Linked DNA regions of Homo sapiens. The protein of the gene in region 2 interacts with the protein of the main gene of each other region in a biochemical or structural test. Each region holds a gene or a part of one and is shown on either strand. Other genes may lie near its edges. The genes, in order: TAFA2 and KIR3DL3.

What was found.
Region 1: the proteins of KIR3DL3 (region 2) and TAFA2 form a complex in vitro, tested with the Homo sapiens proteins (one study listed by BioGRID).

What each region holds. Positions count from the first base shown.
Region 1 is NC_000012.12:61,748,774-61,755,773, forward strand, and holds part of TAFA2 (chemokine-like protein TAFA-2 precursor), read right to left. Parts: intron 6,252-7,000; coding exon 6,099-6,251; intron 4,974-6,098; coding exon 4,849-4,973; intron 1-4,848. UniProt on the Homo sapiens protein: Has a role as neurotrophic factor involved in neuronal survival and neurobiological functions.
Region 2 is NC_000019.10:54,717,877-54,730,091, forward strand, and holds the start of KIR3DL3 (killer cell immunoglobulin-like receptor 3DL3 precursor), read left to right. Parts: upstream 1-6,565; 5' UTR 6,566-6,620; coding exon 6,621-6,654; intron 6,655-7,370; coding exon 7,371-7,406; intron 7,407-8,176; coding exon 8,177-8,461; intron 8,462-9,734; coding exon 9,735-10,034; intron 10,035-11,616; coding exon 11,617-11,910; intron 11,911-12,215.

The DNA.
Region 1 (7,000 bases), on a different chromosome or scaffold from region 2:
TTAAATGTAGCTGGAAAGGAAGTTAGAAATCTTCTTGTCACATGGAACCCAAGAATAAACCTTGGTTAGAGAAATTTGAAATTGAATCTAGCACAACTTCCTCATTCTTATGCTATTCTATTGTTACAATATTACTCTTAACTTATATTTACCACTGATTCCAGTGTTTGTTGTCAATAGACTGCATATGGGTAAAGGAAAGAATAATGTGGTTGGGTGTGGTCGCTCACACCTGTAATCTCAGCACTTTGGGAGTCCAAGGTGGGCGGATCACTTGAGGCCAGGAGTCAGAGACCAGCCTGGGCAGCACAGCAAAACCCCGTTGTTACTAAAAATAAAAAAAAAAAAAAATAGCTGGGTGTGGTGGGGCATGCCAGTAATCCTAGCTACTTGGGAGGCTAAGGCATGAGAATCGCTTGAACTCAAGAGGTGGAGGTTGCAGTGAGCTAAGACTGTGCCACTGCACTCCAGCCTGAGCAGCAGAGTAAGACTTTGTCTCAAAAAAAGGAGAAAAAAAGAAAAGAATAACATAACTGTACACTACTCATTCCTCCATTCAATGGCATACTCCTTGTGGGCTTGGATCAAGCCATGCATTCTCTTTAGTATCTACTATGGTTGGGTAAATTGAATAAGATAATACCTGCAATGTACTCAGCAGAGTGCCCAGATCACAGTAAGAGCTAAGTAAATGCTTCTGTATTTGCTTTTGTTGTTTTAATTCTAATATGAGTACTATTAATATAAAATGTGCTGCATAGGAAATTCTTAATATATTTTGATTTTCATTGCATTATACAATAAAATAATATCATAATGCATACCTTTAAAATCAACTTATATTTGAAGGAACATTTAAAAATTACAGAGCTCTTATCTGCTCAAGCCACTTTAAATAAATGCATAAAGTGAAAGATTTCAATTAGTTAAAAATTAGCCAGAAAATTTCTTCTTAAGTATATGAAAAGTCAATAGACCTGGGACATATGATTCATAAAGGTAATCTTCCTAAAAACAATGTAAAGTCTTATATAATACGAAGTTAGGTAAGAGACCAAGTTTCTCTAACCTGATCCTTAGGTAAGAATCAACATTAAAAACTGCACTGACCACTGTATTTTGTAGCTTGGTGTCCATACCATTAGGCAAGGACTATAAATCCTAAAAACAGAATATTATTTCCTTTAGATCTTCCACGAAGAAAGAATATCAAAACACCCCACACACACACACACACACACAGAATCACAGTCTGTTTTTTTCCGATGATTTCAACCATGTTAAATATTTTCTTTTCTTATATTTTACAAGCTCTGCAGCATCTTTCCCCCCTGTTACTTTTGTGTTGTATAATTAGCTTATAATTATGCACTCTTTCACACTGGAAAGATGATTCTTTTATTAATGACCCTTTGAAAAGTTCTTTATTTGTCTTTGAAAGTGAGTTTGAAATCAAAAGGCTTGAATGACTTTTCCTTTCCTTCTGTTTAACTTAGGAGATCTTAAAAGTAATAAAAGAGACGGTTATAGATGTCACAGAAAGTCATAAATTTTCCACCTTTAGACTGAGAAATGGGGTTTGGGAAACAACTGTTGCATCTTCCACTCTTTCCAAATTAAATGCTTGGGTGTGTGAAGAACAGGTATGCAACAAAACACTCAAGTTCCAAAAATGACTGTCTATTCTTTACCTTTTCCCCCTGTTAGCACCAATAGGAAATGGGTCAGAACCAAAAAAATTCCAGAATCCGATAGAAAAACAGAAGAAGAGTATAATTCACATTTGTAGTAAGTACAATATAGGCTCAAAATTAGTCTTAAGTGGAAAAATCACTCAGACCCTGATTTGTAGTCAATTCGGGAAGGTGCCACTCATCTCTGCTGAGGCCATGCAAGCCTTATTACTATTTCTGGCTGACTGCTATTTATTTAACAGGCTTACCCAAGCACTCCAGATTGGCTATGGGCCATTATAAGGGAGAGTGTACATTATTGCATATTTTAATTATTTCTCAAGCCATTTTGCTTGCAGTGATAATCCCATAAGACCAACATATCTTGCATAAGCAAAGCAAATAGCTTTTGGCTGAGACAGCTCTTGAGTTATTTTGTAACCTATTCCTACATAACTTCTGGCCTTTCCAATTGTGGCTGGGACCTGCCAAATCAGGAGTTCAATGGCTTTTTGGCTCATGGTGATCACAACCACATTATTGAAAACAGACATATGGACAGTAATACCAATGATTAAAATAATGACTCAAATTTGTTTTCAAAAGTAGTGCTATTTATGCATGATGGAAACACTTCTTCTATCTGCCTCTATTCAACATTTCCTCTATCCAACACTTCCACTGTGGGCAAAGTAACACATGCCTAGAGCTATTTTAAGAATTTTTCTTATCGCCTCCAATCTTTTCACTATTTCAGTGGAGATGGCTGAGCAATAATAGCCTGATGACCTTGAAAACTTTTTGCTTCATTTGTAGCACCAGGGAAATTTGCCCAAATTGTTTGGTGGGCCAAACTAAATTGCACATTTTTGCCTTTCTATTTGGAATGCCATAGTGTTCCTTTGGTTGAAAATGTCTAAGTAGCTCCATTTTCACAAGCAGCATTTTTCTTGTGAAAGAATAAAAGGATAAGAATTTACTTTGGTTGTACTCAAGAAGCTCCTTCTTTCAAGTCTTTCTCTCTCCTCTTATATATGATGATTTTTCTTTTCAAAATGGGAGTGACAGACTCTTAGAAATAGAGGGTATCTTAAAAGAAACTAAATCTAAACACCTACTGTTGTATGAAAACCCTCTATAATGTCTTAAATAAGGTCCTCCATTACCAGCTATTCTTTGGGACAAAAGAGATTAAAGAAAAATAGAAAGTGCTATCCTCTATATAGAGGATAATGTCTTATAACTAAAACAAATTATAGGATGTAGATGTGATTTTCCCTACTCATGAGTTCTCAGTCTCTCATCCACCTTGTTTCATTACATTTGGAAGAATTTGTGAAGCAGACACTCCATTTTAAATTTGGGTCATTGAGAATATGGTCAACAGGCCAAAAGGGAGTAAAACAGCACTTCCAAATTTTTTTTTTTCCATGAGAATTTAGACTGCATGGTCTTGACCTTTTCATTTCAATGATCCAGAAAGTTAGAGATATTTTTAAAGGTCGACCTCTTAAGAAAAGAACTATACGATATTTTTACCATTATTGCTTAAGAATAAGTTAAATTATTAGTACAAAGTACAGGTTAAAAGATTGGGTTTTGGAATGGAACTACATGTTTTGAAACCTGGCTTCCTAATTAATTAGCTATATGTCCTTGGGAAGTTACATAACATTTGGAAGTTTTGGTTTACTCATCTGTAAAAGGAGATAATAACACTATCTTCTCCACTGGGCTATTAGGAAGATTAAGTGAGCTAACTCATGTAAAGCATTTTGTTCAGTGTATGGCATATGTTTTAAGTATACAATAAATAATAGCTTCCCCTTGTTCACTGAAGTAATAAAAACAAAGAATTTGGTTGTCAAGAGCTCACAATTTTAAAAATTTGTTTCAGAATCTCAAAACGTTAATGAATTTCCTTAAGTCCTGTTTTTGGACTGAGAATTAATAGTGCTAGGGAAAATATTTTCATGGTATAAATAGCTTATAAGGAAAATTTACATTGCCAGAATGTTTTTAACAAATTAATACGGATTATATCATGTGCTAGCTCACTGAATAATATAATTATCCTAACTAATTGATCATGCATCCAATGGGTTTTGAAAAGGTGTGACACTTAGCTAACAGGTTAGAGTCAAGAAAAATTTCATGAAATATGTTTTTATTCATGCCATTTGAAACTTAGTCACTTCTGTGTATGTCTGATCAGTCAATGTATTAAATATATTACTTGGCAGACTAAATTACATATCTAGATGAGATCATAAAATAAGCCTCTTGTATATGTCTGGACAAGGTTTAAAAGTCTGCTATATCAAGTAGTATTGTAAATTAGCCAGTCTCTACTTTTATGTTACTTTTTATAAAACATCAATTTATACCATTACTCTGTTCTATTCTTCAAATATTCAACTCTAATTTATAGTATGCTTTTCCTAAAAGCAAAACAAAACAAAACCTTCCTTTGCTAATTCTATAAAGAAAAGAATTCAAATTCTGCCAGTCTGGAATACCCATGTGGCAAATTAGGAAATCAAAGAACAAAGCTATTTTTCAGTTCTCTACCATCACCGAGAGGTCAGTAATTACAAAGCTGAAATACATCAGTGTCTTAAGAATATTCTTTTTGTATTGATCTTGAGAATCTGAAACTCTTCCTAGTAGCCCATTACAATAATTGTAAATCTTAACCACTAGAAAACTATTTAATGATTCAGATATCAGGGAGATCAAAATAATTACTTTCATAAAACTAAAAGAATCTCAGTTAAAAAACTGTATTAAAAGTAATATATAAAATAATGTTTTCAGAATTTATTTAGATTACTATACATTAGAAAAATAAAGGATTGGGGTCACCCTCCCAGAATTTAACATGCATCCTCAGTGGGGAAAGGAGGTTCACATTACCCTCAGTATTTTATGAAGGAGCAAACAGTGTTTATTGATCAGATAATATGACAGTTGATGGTACTCTATGGAAGATGTTGTTCTGAGTGAAATAAAAATGTTTTATGAAAAAAGCGAACTAAGAAAAAAATGGGGAAAACATATCTTGCAAAACTATACTCTTCCATTCCACAATTGCCACTTAAATTGGTTACTGCACAAGCTCCGTTCTCTATTAATTCAGAGACATTCTGTTTTCCCAAGCTTGCTGTCCACTTACCCTAGTTGTTTTGACTTTATTCCCAGAGGAACAGCTCCATCCTTTCCGATCCGGAAGAACTTTACATTCTTCTCCCTCTAGACATGGCTGCATATGGCACCACCATTTCTGTTCCACTATTGAAGCTATAAGAGAGAAAAAAAATTGACTCAACATTTTTTTCTTGGGACTTATTTCTCTTGTTCACCTTTAAAGAGGAACAAAAGCCACTAATTTTTCCTACCAGTGGGAATACAGGTATTTGAGGTATGCCTTTCTTTTTGTTCAAAAGGACAAAACCTTTCAAGATTTTCTAACTAAAATAATTTTCTTTAAAACATTTTTTATTTTATTGTAATGAGAACACTTAACATGAGATCTATCCACTTAATAAAATTGTAAGTGTAGAATGCAGTATAGTTAACTATAGACACAATATTACAGGATTTTCATGTGAAAATAGACTTCATGAAAGCTAAGATATTGAAAATAAACTATGCAAATGTGTATATGCACCAATTTATATAAATATATAAGAAAATGGACCTATGACCAGTTTTTAGAGTCAACACTTTATAATCAATATAATATTCCCATGAATAAGATGGTTATCAGGAGGGTGTTTATCAGAGTTATCATAATTTTTTTAACTGTGTGCTATAACCTCATCACAAGCAATATATTATAGTAATATGAGCACTTAACAAATTACTATTTATGGTAACATCAACTAAATAAATGCATATAAAGATTTATGTCCTACTATAATTAGGTGAACCCTCAAGGAAAAAAATTAATATATTATTGCATCATCATAAAAGTTGATATTTTATGTTAATTCTATCCACAACTAAATGTTCACTCATATACATGGTGCTATTTTTTTTAATTCTTAAGAATATCCATGGGTTTAAGAACCCATAATATTAAATCATCCATTTTCATCTTTCCTTTTCCAATTAATTTACACATAATCCACCTCCCACCATCCACCGAGAAATCAACATTTCATGGTATCAAAATAAGATGCACATTAATTTAATGGAACCTCATTATAATGCCTTTTGTAACAGAACTGCATAATATTTTAGACCTCTTTCCAGAGGATTTTAGATTTCAAAATGCCACCCAAATATTCTAGTTTCAACTTATCATGGTATTTGTAGTATGTTCACCCAGGATTGACCTCCCATTGAGAGCATTATAGTGGGGTTCTAGTTCTAAGCCATCCTTGGCTGTGCTGTTACAATAAGGAATGGAAGAAGTCACACCATCCACACATGATGGAGCAGCTCGCGTGGTGCCTGCCACCTGCCCAGGGAAGCAGGAGCACTTGACTGTTTGTGACCGTTCTTCTATCTTGTTCTTATTACAGCATCTGTGGAGTGCCACCACCTCACAAGTTCCCGTTTTAACATGGTGAGCTGCACAAACAAAAAAGATAAGACAACATTGAGAAAGCTTTGGACACTTCCCCCCACCCTTCTTTTTAATTAGCAGTACATTAAATATAGCTCTATAAGGGGTCCACCAGGCATGAAACGAGAAATACAATGATGCTAACTCCATAATGCAGATTTGATTTCTTTTCTAAATGTGGTAGGAACATTTCTGTCAGTGAATGCTTGGTAAAGCAGGAACAATTAGTGACTAGATTAGAATAAGCTGTTAAAAGTCTGATACAGAAGCAGTATGTGCCGTCATCAAAAACATTTATTTGCATATGACTTTTTAATGCCTTTTTGTTCAATGCATTAATCAAAGTAAAATAAACCTCTGGCCTAGGTACCCTGCAATGGGACTGAGGCCAGCCCCATTCTCAAAGTGGGTGGTTGCTGATAAAGCTTGTGTTCTTCTAGGGGAGAGTAAGAGGACTAGGCAGGAAGTGGAGGCAGACAGTGGGCACCCACATGCTCAGTATTCTTCTGCTCAGTTTCCCTGAAAATGAACAAATCCAGTGATTCTTGAAATTGCCACCATTTTTCTGGAAGATCCAACCAGTCCCAGAAGCCAGAGTCATTCCTTTCAATTTTGCCTGAGAGGGCAACTGTCACCAAATGGTACCATGAACTTGGATAATTCGTATCTGGCAGCCAATTGCCTGTAAACCCAGTCCAATAAGCTGTCAGGCTTCCATATTCATTTTGTCAACCTTGAATAAGGACACTAAGTG
Region 2 (12,215 bases):
AGCAGAAATCACAAAACATTATTTAAAATTAATAAAAATAGAAACAAACTTACCAAAACCTTTGGGATGCAGTTAAAGCAGTGATAAGAGGAAAATTTATAGCAATACATGCCTCATCAGAAGTTTAGAAAGATCTCAAATTAGTGACTTAACACTGCATCTAGAGGAACTATTAAAAAAAAGGAACAGTCCAAACCCAAGGCCAGCAAAAGATGAGAAATAACTAAAGTCAGAGAGAACTGAATAAATTGAGACCAAAAAGTCCATACAAGAGATAAATAAAACCAAGAGTTTTTCTTTGAAAAAAAATAAACAAAATTCATAGACTGTTAGCTAGATTAACAAAGAAAAAGAGAAAAGATCCAAATAAACACAAATAGAACTGACAAAACAATGTTACGAACAATCCCACAGAAATAGAAAAGATCGTCAAAGACTATTATGAACACCTCTATACAAACAAGCTAGAAAACCTAGAAGAAATGGATAAATTCCTGGTAACACAAAATTTATCATATTTCAACCAGGAAGAAAGTGAAAACCTGAACAGACCAATAACAAGTTCAGAAATTTAATCAGTAATAAAAACCCTACTAACTAAAAATAGCCCAGGACCAGATGGATTCACAGCCAAAATCCAACAGCCATACAAAGAAGAACTGATACCGATCTTACTGAAACTTTTGGAAAAAATCAAGGAGTGGGGGCTTCTTCCTAACTCATTCTATGAAGCCATCATCACCATGATACCAACATCTGTCAGAGACATAATGAAAAAAAGAAAACTACAACTAAATATCCTTAATGAACATAGACATAAAATCCTCAACAAAATGCTAGCAAATTGAATCTGTCAGTGCATCAAAAGTTAATTCACATGATCAAGTAAGCTTTATTTTTGGGATGCAAGGTTGGTTCAACCTACAAAGTCAACGAATGTGATTCACCTCATAAACATAATTAAAAACAAAAACTATATGATCATCTCAATAGATGCAGAAAAAGCTTTCTGTAAAATCCAACATCCCTTCATGATAAAAACTGTCAATAGGCATCAAAGGAACATACCTCAAAATATTAAGAGCCATCTATGACAAACCCACAGCCAACATCATATTGATGGGCAAAAGCTGGAACCATACCCCTTGAGAACCGAAACAAGACCAGGATGACCACTCCCGCCATTTTAATTCAACATGGTACTGGAAGTCCTAGCCAAAGCAATCAGGCAAGAGAAGGAAATAAAAGGCATTAAAATTGGAAAAGAAGTAGTGATACTGTCTCTCTTTGCTGATGAAATAATTTTATACATAGAAAACCCTAAAGACTCTGTCAGAAGGCTCCTGAAACTGATAAACAAATTCAATAAAGTTTCGGGATTAAAAAAATGTACACAAATTAGTAACATTTCTATGCACCACTAACATTCTAGCTGAGAACTAAATCAAGAACACAATTCCATTTACACTAGCCACAAAGAAAATAAAATACCTAGGAATCCATCTAACCAAGAAGGTGAAAATTCTCTACAAGGAGAACTACAAAACACTTCTGAAAGAAATAAGAAATGATACAAACAAATGGAAGAATATTCCATGCTCATGAATTAGGAGAACAAATAGTTAAAATCGCCATACTTCCAAAAACAAATTGCAGACTCAATGCTATCCATTTCAAAATGCAATGTCATTTTTCACGAAATTATAAAAATTTATTCTAAAATGTATTTGGCACCAAAAAAAGAGCCTGAATACACATAGGAATCCTAAGCACAAAGAACAAAGCCCAGGCATCACATTACCCAACTTCAAACTATACTACAATGCTATAGTAACCCAAACAGCATGATACTACTACAAAAACAGACACATAGACCAATGAGACAGAATAGAGAACCCAGAAATGAGGCTACATACCTACAATCATCTTTGAAAAAATTGACAAAAACAAGCAATGTGGAAAGTACCCTTTCTTCAATAAATAGTTCTGGGATAACTGACTACTCATATGCAAAATAATAGAACTGGACCCCTAACTCTCACTATATACAAAAATTAACCCAAGATAGTTTAAAGATTTAAATGTAAAACCTCAAAATATTAAAATTCTAGAAGAAAACCTAGGAAATATCCTTCTCAAGATAGACTTTGGCAAAGAATTTATGGCTAACTCCCCAAAACCAATTGTGACAAAGACAGAAATTGGGACCTAACTCAACTGAAGAGCTTCTGCACAGCAAACGAAAGTATCAACAGAGTAAACAGATAACCTACAGACTGGGAGAAAATATTTGCAAACTATGCATCTGACAAAGTTCTAATATCCAGAATCTATAAGGAATGTAAACAAATCAACAAGCAGAAAACCAAAAAACCTCAATTAAGTATGACATGAACAGACACTTCTCAAAAGAAGATGTACACATGGCCAAAAAACATATGAACAAATGCTTATTATCAGTAATCATCAGAGAAATGCAAATTAAAACCACAGTGAGATACCATCTCACAACAATCAGAGAAGCAGAAGCAATTACTAAAAAGTTTTTTGTTTTTTTTAATAACAGATGCTGACAAGATTGTGGAGAAAAGGGAACACTTATACACTCTTGGTGGGAATGTTAACTAGTTCAGCCAATGTGATAAGCAGTTTGGAGACTTCTCAAATAACTTAAAATAGAACTACTATTCAATCAAGCAATCCCACTACTGGGTATATACCAAAAGGAAGGTAATTAACTATGTCAAAAAGACACATGCACTAGTATATTCATTGCTGTGCAATTCAGAATAGCAAAGATTTGCAGTCAACCTAAGTGCTCACCAACAGTGGATTAGTTAAAGAAAATGTGCTACATATACACATGGAACATTACATGGCCATAAAAAATAATGAAATCATGTCCTTTGCAGCAACATGAATGTAGCAGGAGGTCAATCTCCTAAGTGAACTAACCCAGGAACAGAAAACCAAATACCACATGTTATCACTTATAACTGAGAACCAAACATTGAATACACATGAACATAAAGATGGAAACAACAGATACCGAGGACTACAGATGGGGGGAGGAGTAGGGAGGTATAGGCTGAAGAAACACCTGTTGGATTCTATGCTCATTGCCTGGGTGATGGCATTGTTGGAACCACAAACCTCAGAGTCACACAATATGCCTATGTAACAAACCTGCATGCATACCTTTAATCTACAGTAAAGGTTGAAGTTATTTAAAAATAGGAAGAAGAATTACCCTATACCTAAAGCTAAGATTTTTCCCTTTGAATATTCGTTTCTTCATCACTGTAGATAAGCAGGGAAAGAAAAATTATTATACTATACTAGCCTTTTATGTGACCATGAGGATTTGGGGTAGGTAGGTGGACAGCTTAGATAATTCACCAGGATATTGATACAGGCTCCATGGCTGGAAATAACCAAGGATGAGTGCTGTGTTTTGAGTGGTCTCCCCCAGAAACGTTTGTTGAAATCCTAACCCCTGGTATGTATGAATGTGAATTCATATTATATAAAAAGGAATAAATAGCCTGAGCACAGTGGCTCACACCTGTAATCCCAGCACTTTGGGAGGCCAAAGCAGGTGGATCATTTGAGGTCAGGAGTTCTGGCCAATATGGCAAAACTTCATCTCTACAAAAAAAAAATACAAAAAAAAAAATTGGCTGGGTATGGTGGCGCATGCCTGTAGTCCCAGCTACTCAGGAGGCTGAGGCAGGAATTGCTGAAACCTGGAAGGCAGAGGTTGCAGTGAGCCAAGATCATGCCACTGCACTCCAGCCTGGGTGAGACGGCAAGATATTCTGTCAAAAATAAATAAATAAAAAACAGAAGAAGAAATACAAGAATGACAGCAAACTTTGTATTCAAAACTATGAAAGTAAGAAATAGGTGGACCAACATTTTTAAAGTGCTACAAGAAAATATTTCAAACTAGAATCTTTCAACCTGAAAAGGAAAACATTTTCCTGCAATAAAGGTGCCATTAAAAATGTCTCACAATTTATTACATGAAGCATTGTTCTACAATAAATGTTAAGCTCTTGAAGCAAAGATTAATGATACCATTTAGTAACTTGAAATTCAAAAAAGTGGAAGTATCCCAAGAGGCAAATACGTGTGCAATTATTAAATGTTTCATATCAACACCCAACCTTATGCTGTCTACATAAGCTGCACTTCAAATACTAATCCACAAGATGTAAATATTGAAAGAATGACATTACATTGTCATGATAATGCCCAGTGCAAAATATGCTTCTAGTCAGTTGTATACATAGAATAGGTAAATGTTTGTAATAAAAAGTATTCCTCAATAGAAGTTTCTTAACTCAAAGAATGAAATATTTCACCATGCACATACAAAGAAGAGATATATGGAGATATGAAGAGGAGTACTTCATAATGACAAAGAGGCAAATTCATAAATAAGACATAATAATCCTAAATGCCTACACACCTAAAGCTGGAACCTCAAAACACATTAAATTAAAGGCATAATTCAAAACATAATCAATCACATCCAAATTGCAGCTAGAGATAGCAACATTCACCTCACTTCCAGAACAAGTACACAGAAAATTATTAAGCATATGAAAGACTTGAAAAACATTTGTGTAGGCGGCGGGTGCATAAGGTTGGGTGTTGATATGAAACATTTAATAATTTCAATAATCCTAGCACTTTGGGAGGCCAAAATGGGAGGATCACTTGAGGCCAGGAGTTTGAGACCAGCCTGGGCACCATAGTGAGACCCCGTCTCTATTTTTTTTAAATAAAGAAAAACATTTGAATGATTTTTTTCTTAACTGACATTTAGAAAACATCCACCTCAAATCTTCCTAATCCACAAACTTGTCTAGCACCCCTGGAACATTCACCAAAATAAATTTTTAAATGCTGAATCATAGGTAATATGATAGATGAAACAGTTGAATTAAATTATAAATGTACAACAAGGAAATGCTGGGGAAATTATCAAATATTTTAAAATTAATAAACACACATAGCAATAAACAATGAGTGGAAGAAAAACATTTCAAAGAAAGGTGGAAAATATTTTGTATCAATTAAAAATGAAAACACATCTCGGCAAATGACTGGGGATACAGATAGAACAGTGTTAAAGGAAAATAAGCCTCAAATGTCTGTGTTAGAAAAGAAGGAAGAGCTGAGTAAATAGGTAACTTTCGCTTGCAGAAATACTACACATCAGCAAATTAATTCCAAAGTAACGTCGAGGAAAAACATAAAATGGCAAGCAAATATATACGTGCATATGTACGTATATTCATAAATGACAAACAGGACAGAAAAATCAGTGACATCAATTTTGTTCCTTAGAAGAAACAGGAAAATTGACCCCAAAAAACTTTCCAGGCCACATTTGGTCATGATGGAAATATTTTGGCACTTCCTGGTTAAGCTCAACACCAACTTGCACCCAAAACCAATAATTTCATTCCTAGGTAAATATGTCTAATTAATTCAGCATATGTATGCAAGGGATCACACAGAAACACGATTATCAAGGCCCGAGTTATAAAAGAGAAAATCCGGAAACAACACAAATGTCCATGATAAAAAGAGTGGATAATTACATGTTGATAAAGTTATGTATGGACTATTAAACTGCAATCCAAAAGAATAAAATAGAACTATAAAATTCAATATGTATATGGTGTCATAGAAACACAAATGTGAGAAAAAGAAAGAAAAATACAAAATTTATATTTTTTAAAATTTGAAACAACTATATATGTGAGTGCTTAGGGTGTGTGTGTGTGTGTGTGTGTATAACCATATGTATATAAACGCACACATACGCACACATATAGAATGTCCCGGCCAGGCATGGTGGCTCACACCTGTAATCTCAGCACTTTGGGAGGCTGAAGTAGACAGATCACTTGAGGTTAGGAGTTCAAGACCAGCCTGGCCAACATGGAGAAACCTCCTCTCTACTAAAAGTACAAAAATTAGGTGGGCGTGATGGTGGGTGCCTGTAAATCCAGCTACTTAGGAGGCTGAGGCACGAGAATTGCGTGAACCTGGGAGGTGGAGGCTGCAATGAGCCGAGGTCTCACCACTGCATTCCAAACTGGGTGACGAAGTGAGATTGCGTCTCAAAAAAAAAAAAAGTTCTAAAAGTTGTGACTTGGGTGTGGCAGATTGTGACATACTGCCAGCTGCTAGAAATGCTGGGGCAGGAGGATTGCTTGAACTCTGAAGTCAAAGAACAGCCTGGGGAAAATAGCACATGAAGAAGAGTTTGAATCTCAGATAAAAACAACAAAAATACATCAAAAGTCTTTAATGTAAGCCAAGCATTCAGTCATCTCCTGTATGAGAGATTGGATCTGAGACGTGTTTTGAGTTGGTTATAGTGAAGGATGCAAGGTGTCAATTCTAGTTGGAACAATTTCCAGGAAGCCATGTTCCGCTCTTGACCAAACAGCCACTGGGCCTCATGCAAGGTAGAAATAGCCTGCATACGTCATCCTCCCATGATGTGGTCAGCATGTAAACTGCATGAGCCCCTCACAACATCCTGTGTGCTGCTGAACTGAGCTGGGGCGCAGCCGCCTGTCTGCACCGGCAGCACCATGTCGCTCATGGTCGTCAGCATGGCGTGTGTTGGTGAGTCCTGGAAGGGAATCGAGGGAGGGAGCGCTGGGGTGGAGATCTGGGCCTGGAGTGGAGATCTGGGCCTGGAGTGGAGATATGGGCCTGGAGTGGAGATATAGGCCTGGAGTGGAGATATGGGCCTGGGGTGGAGATATGGGCCTGGAGTGGAGATATGGGCCTGGAACTGTAGATATGGGCCTGAAGTAGAGATATGGGCCTGGAGTAGAGATATGGGCCTGGAACTGTAGATATGGGCCTGGAGTGGAGATATTGGCTTGGAGTGCAGATATGGACCTGGAATTGAGATACGGGCCTGGAGGTGGAGATATGGGCCTAGAGTGGAGATATGGGCCTGGAGGTGGAGATATGGGCCTGGAACTGTAGATATGGGCCTGGAGTAGAGATACGGGCCTGGAGTGGAGATGTTGGCTTGGAGTGCAGATATGGGCCTGGAATGGAGACACGGGCCTGGAGGTGGAGATACAGGCCTGGAGGTGGAGATATGGGCCTGGAGTGTAGATATGGGCCTGGAGTAGAGATATAGGACGGAGGTGGAGATATAGGCCTGGAGTGGAGATATGGGCCTGGAGTAGAGATATAGGACGGAGGTGGAGATATAGGCCTGGAGTGGAGATATGGGCCTAGAGGTGGAGATATGGGCCTGGAGTGGAGATATGGGCCTGGAGGTGATGTACAGATGGATCATCCATCATGATCTTTCTTTCCAGGGTTCTTCTTGCTGGAGGGGCCCTGGCCACATGTGGGTGAGTCCTTCCCCCAAACCTTAGGTTGTCATCTCCCCACATAAGATGATGCTCCTGAAACGGGAGGCAGGCGACACAGGGGGTTGACTGATGGGCTGACCATGGGAAGCCATGTGGGAATCTCTCATGAACTAGGAAAAGGAAGCCAGGGGAAGCTTCGCCACAGTTCTGTCCTAGCCCTCCCCGGCCTTTCTTTCCCTTGGCTGAGTCTGTGGGGACCCAGGGGGAGACTGAAGTGCTCAAAGGAGTGGTGTGCAGGGAGGAAGTGGTGTCACCGGCAGAGGAAGGGAGAGAAGCAGTGCAAGGAACAACAGGCCTCTGAGGACAAGAGCATAACTCACACCCTCCAGCGTTTCCATGACGGTAGGGGCTGCAATGTGGCTGCTGTCATTCTACCTAAGAGGTGGGGGAACCACAGTCATGACCCTGACATTCCAGATCTTCTAATAGGGGCTCAGTTGTTTATTATGGTTCATGCATTAGCTGATCATGCCCTCCATCCTGTGTCTACCTTGTGTTCTTTTATGTAAGTAATTTTGCAGTGTTAAAATCTAGTAAGAGTCGCTTCTTCAGCACCTGCTCAAAGTTCTCAGCTGACACTTGCTGTAGGGAGACGCCATGTCTATGCGGGATGGGTCCTTCCTGTAGCCCTGGGCACCCAGGTGTGGTAGGAGCCTTAGAAACGTGGAAATGGGAGAATCTTCTGAGCACAGGGAGGGAGGGGCGGCTCCACATCCTCCTCTCTAAGGTGGTGCCTCCTTCTCCCCCAGGTGGTCAGGACAAGCCCTTCCTCTCTGCCTGGCCCGGCACTGTGGTGTCTGAAGGACAACATGTGACTCTTCAGTGTCGCTCTCGTCTTGGGTTTAATGAATTCAGTCTGTCCAAAGAAGACGGGATGCCTGTCCCTGAGCTCTACAACAGAATATTCCGGAACAGCTTTCTCATGGGCCCTGTGACCCCAGCACATGCAGGGACCTACAGATGTTGCAGTTCACACCCACACTCCCCCACTGGGTGGTCGGCACCCAGCAACCCTGTGGTGATCATGGTCACAGGTCAGAGGCTTTCTGTCTGGGCTTCTCACTGTCCCACCTCCTGAATCCCAGAGCTTCTGGTGGGGGCGTCCATCAGGGTCCAATCATCCAGGCCCCGACTGTATTTGGGGTAAAGGGGGATTCAGTACAGAGAAATAGTTGCTGTGGTGGGAAGAATAATTGTCCCCAGTGATGGCTACATGGTAATCCATGAACCCTGTGACTATTTATGTTATAGGGCAGGGGACTGAAGAGGAAGATGGAGCTCAGGTTGTTGATGAGTTGACCTTGCGATGGGGAGACAGCCTGGACTGTCCTGCTGTGCTCAGAGTAATCACAAGGGTCCTCATGAGAGGAGGAGGAAGAGGAAAGTGGGGTTAGAGCAACGTCGTGGGAGGGAGACTCCATCAGCCACAGCGGGCTTTGAAGATGGGGGAAGGCCATGAGCCACAAAGGCAGGTGGCCTCTAAGGGCTGGAGAAGTCAAGGGAACTGATTCTTCCCTGAGTCTCCAGAGGAAACACAGCCCTGCAGATGCCTTGATTTTAGCCCAGAGAGAACTGGGTCCGATTTCTGTTCTCCAGAAGTGGAAGAGGTCATTGTATTCTCTCCTGCCCCATGTTTGTGACAATTTTCTCCAGCAGCAACAGGAAACCAACACAGGAACCCAGGTGAAGCACAGGTTAAGAAACCAAACAAGGAGAAGGTTGGCTACACTGATTTTAGCATGGGTGGGATACTGATGCTACCACCAGGCTCGATCCACATAGGGAGGGGTTGATGCTCCTGGAACCAGCACCAGGGGCCACCCTATGGAAGCTGGGGCCATGGAGAAGGCACAGACATGAAAGGAGAGGCTCCCAATCCCCATCAGGAACAGGGACACTGATGCCTGCCTTACTGATGAGTTCGTACCTCCTGCCGGCCTTTCCAATCTGTCCAAAAGAGATTGATTCAGGCTGCTAAGAGCCTGGACATGCAGCCTGTCATGGTTCCTCTTCCACCCCCACATAAACACCAGGAAAGAGATTAGTGGGAAACAGATACAACAGCCTAAGAGGTGACACTGAGCACAGTGGGAAGGGAATCAGGGCTACTAGAGACAGAGAGACAGGGAAGAGGGAGGGAGACAGATGGAGGGACCTGCAACAGGGGTTATGGGCACAAAAGAACACGGAGACACAGACAGGAAGGAGAGAGATAGACACCATGGAGGGGAAGCCTCACTTATTTCAGGTCCCATGAATGGGATGAGAAAGGGAGACGCCTTCTGAACTCACAACCTCTCTTCTTAGGAGTCCACAGAAAACCTTCCCTCCTGGCCCACCCAGGTCCCCTGGTGAAATCAGGAGAGACGGTCATCCTGCAATGTTGGTCAGATGTCAGGTTTGAGCGCTTCCTTCTGCACAGAGAGGGGATCACTGAGGACCCCTTGCGCCTCGTTGGACAGCTCCACGATGCGGGTTCCCAGGTCAACTATTCCATGGGTCCCATGACACCTGCCCTTGCAGGGACCTACAGATGCTTTGGTTCTGTCACTCACTTACCCTATGAGTTGTCGGCTCCCAGTGACCCTCTGGACATCGTGGTCGTAGGTGAGAGAATACAGACCTGCCTCTCACCCTTGCTGGGAGATGGAGTGAATGATCTAGGACTGGAAGCCCCAGGTGGTCATGAGGAAGATGAGTGTGGGGTTCCTATGGAGAGAAAGTGACTTGGTGAGGTCTGTACCAACAAAGGCAGAGAAACAGGAGACACAAGTACAGACCTCATGTCATAACATAGAAGCCAGACACAGGGGCCATACAAGGTGTTAGAAAAAGAGATAAAGAGGTAAAGAAGACACAGAGAGACAGACATATCCCAGAGAGAGGTGTCCTTCTATGCTGACTTTGTTCAGAGACCAGGCACAGGTTAGAAGGTTCCATTCTGTTTTACCTCTACAAAGTGTTCTCTCCCAGGAGAACCCAAAGAGACACATCTATCTGGCCTGAGTTGGGCCATGTGGCCCCAGGCTGGTGGCACCTACAGATGTTGTGTTTATTCTTAAACCTCTGCCTTCCGTGCAGTGGAGCTGTCATCGTCCCAGGACACCATGGCCCCAGGTGAGGGAGCAGAACACCAACCCCTGTATGCTGTGAGTTCCTGGAGTCCCCATACTGGATTCTGAGGCTCATATTCAAATAGCACCACATGTTATAGGATTACTGAGAACAAAAGCCCACAGAGAGACACGGAGTGAAATCAGGGAAATCAAAAAGCAAAGACATGAACACACACACAGAATGAGCCAGAAGAAGGGAATTGAGAGACTCACAGACACATAAAGAGATAGAAAAAGAGGGCAGAGAAGTGGAGCGTATGATGGAAGGAAGCAGAGAAAAGCCCTAAAATCAGAGCCCTGAGGGAGGGGCACAAAGACAGGGAAAGATAAAGATGTGAGGATGGATTGCAGAGACTCCAAAAGGGAACTAGAGAGACTGAGAGGCAGAGAAAGACAAGGAGATGGAGAGAGACAGATGATAGATGGACAGATAGATATAGATAGATGAAAGATAAAAGGTAGATGATAGATAATAGAGAGACAGGTGATAGACAAATAGATGATGAATGACTGATAGATGATATAGATAGACAAGTAGAAAGACAGACAGATGATATATAAATAGATATAGAGAGATAGAAAGACAGATAAACACATGATGATAGATGGATAGATGCATACATACATACATTGATTGATAGATGATAGATAACAGAGAGATAGGTCATAGATACACAGATGATGATAGATGATAGATACATACATAGATAAATGATAGATCGATCAATAGATAATAGATAGAAATATGCAGAAAGTTATGAGCAAGACAGAAAGTGAGAGACTCAGAATTAAAGAAAGAGGAAGATCAAGTCAACCAGTCCAAGGAGGGTCAGAGAGAATAAAATGGTACAAAAAAAGAAAACATAGCTAGGGATGGAGAAGTGAGGTCAGAGACCTAGAGAGACAGAGAAGGTGGAAGGAGGAAATAGACATGAAGAGAGATGGGGGTGGAGGGTGAGAGAGAGAAAGAGAGCATTAAGTCATAGAGCAGGGGAGTGAGTTCTCAGCTCAGGTGTGAGGAGAGCTGTGACAAGGAAGAACCTCCCTGAGGAAACCACCTCTTCTTCTTCCAGGTCTATATGGGAAACCTTCTCTCTCAGCCCAGCCGGGCCCCACGGTTCAGGCAGGAGAGAATGTGACCTTGTCCTGCAGCTCCCGGAGCTTGTTTGACATTTACCATCTATCCAGGGAGGCGGAGGCCGGTGAACTTAGGCTCACTGCAGTGCTGAGGGTCAATGGAACATTCCAGGCCAACTTCCCTCTGGGCCCTGTGACCCACGGAGGGAACTACAGATGCTTCGGCTCTTTCCGTGCCCTGCCCCATGCGTGGTCAGACCCGAGTGACCCACTGCCCGTTTCTGTCACAGGTGAGAAAACACCATGCCTGTCCCATGTCTTGTGATCCTAGAGCCATAGCTGAGGAGCTTCCTGCTGATGATGGAGAGAAGCATGGACAGATGCCGAGACAGAACACACAGCATGGGTGTAAGGGCGGGGTCAGGGCGCAGGATGGCAGACAGGGCACCTCCAAACCCTCCTGTATGGCCTGCAAGGATGCCCTTGATCAGGGTTCCAGGCACCCAGGCAGATGGAGAAAGAGGTCAGAACAGACCCAGAGGAGGGAGACTGGGCTCTGCCTGGGGAGATCAGAGGTTCTCTCAGCCCCTCAACC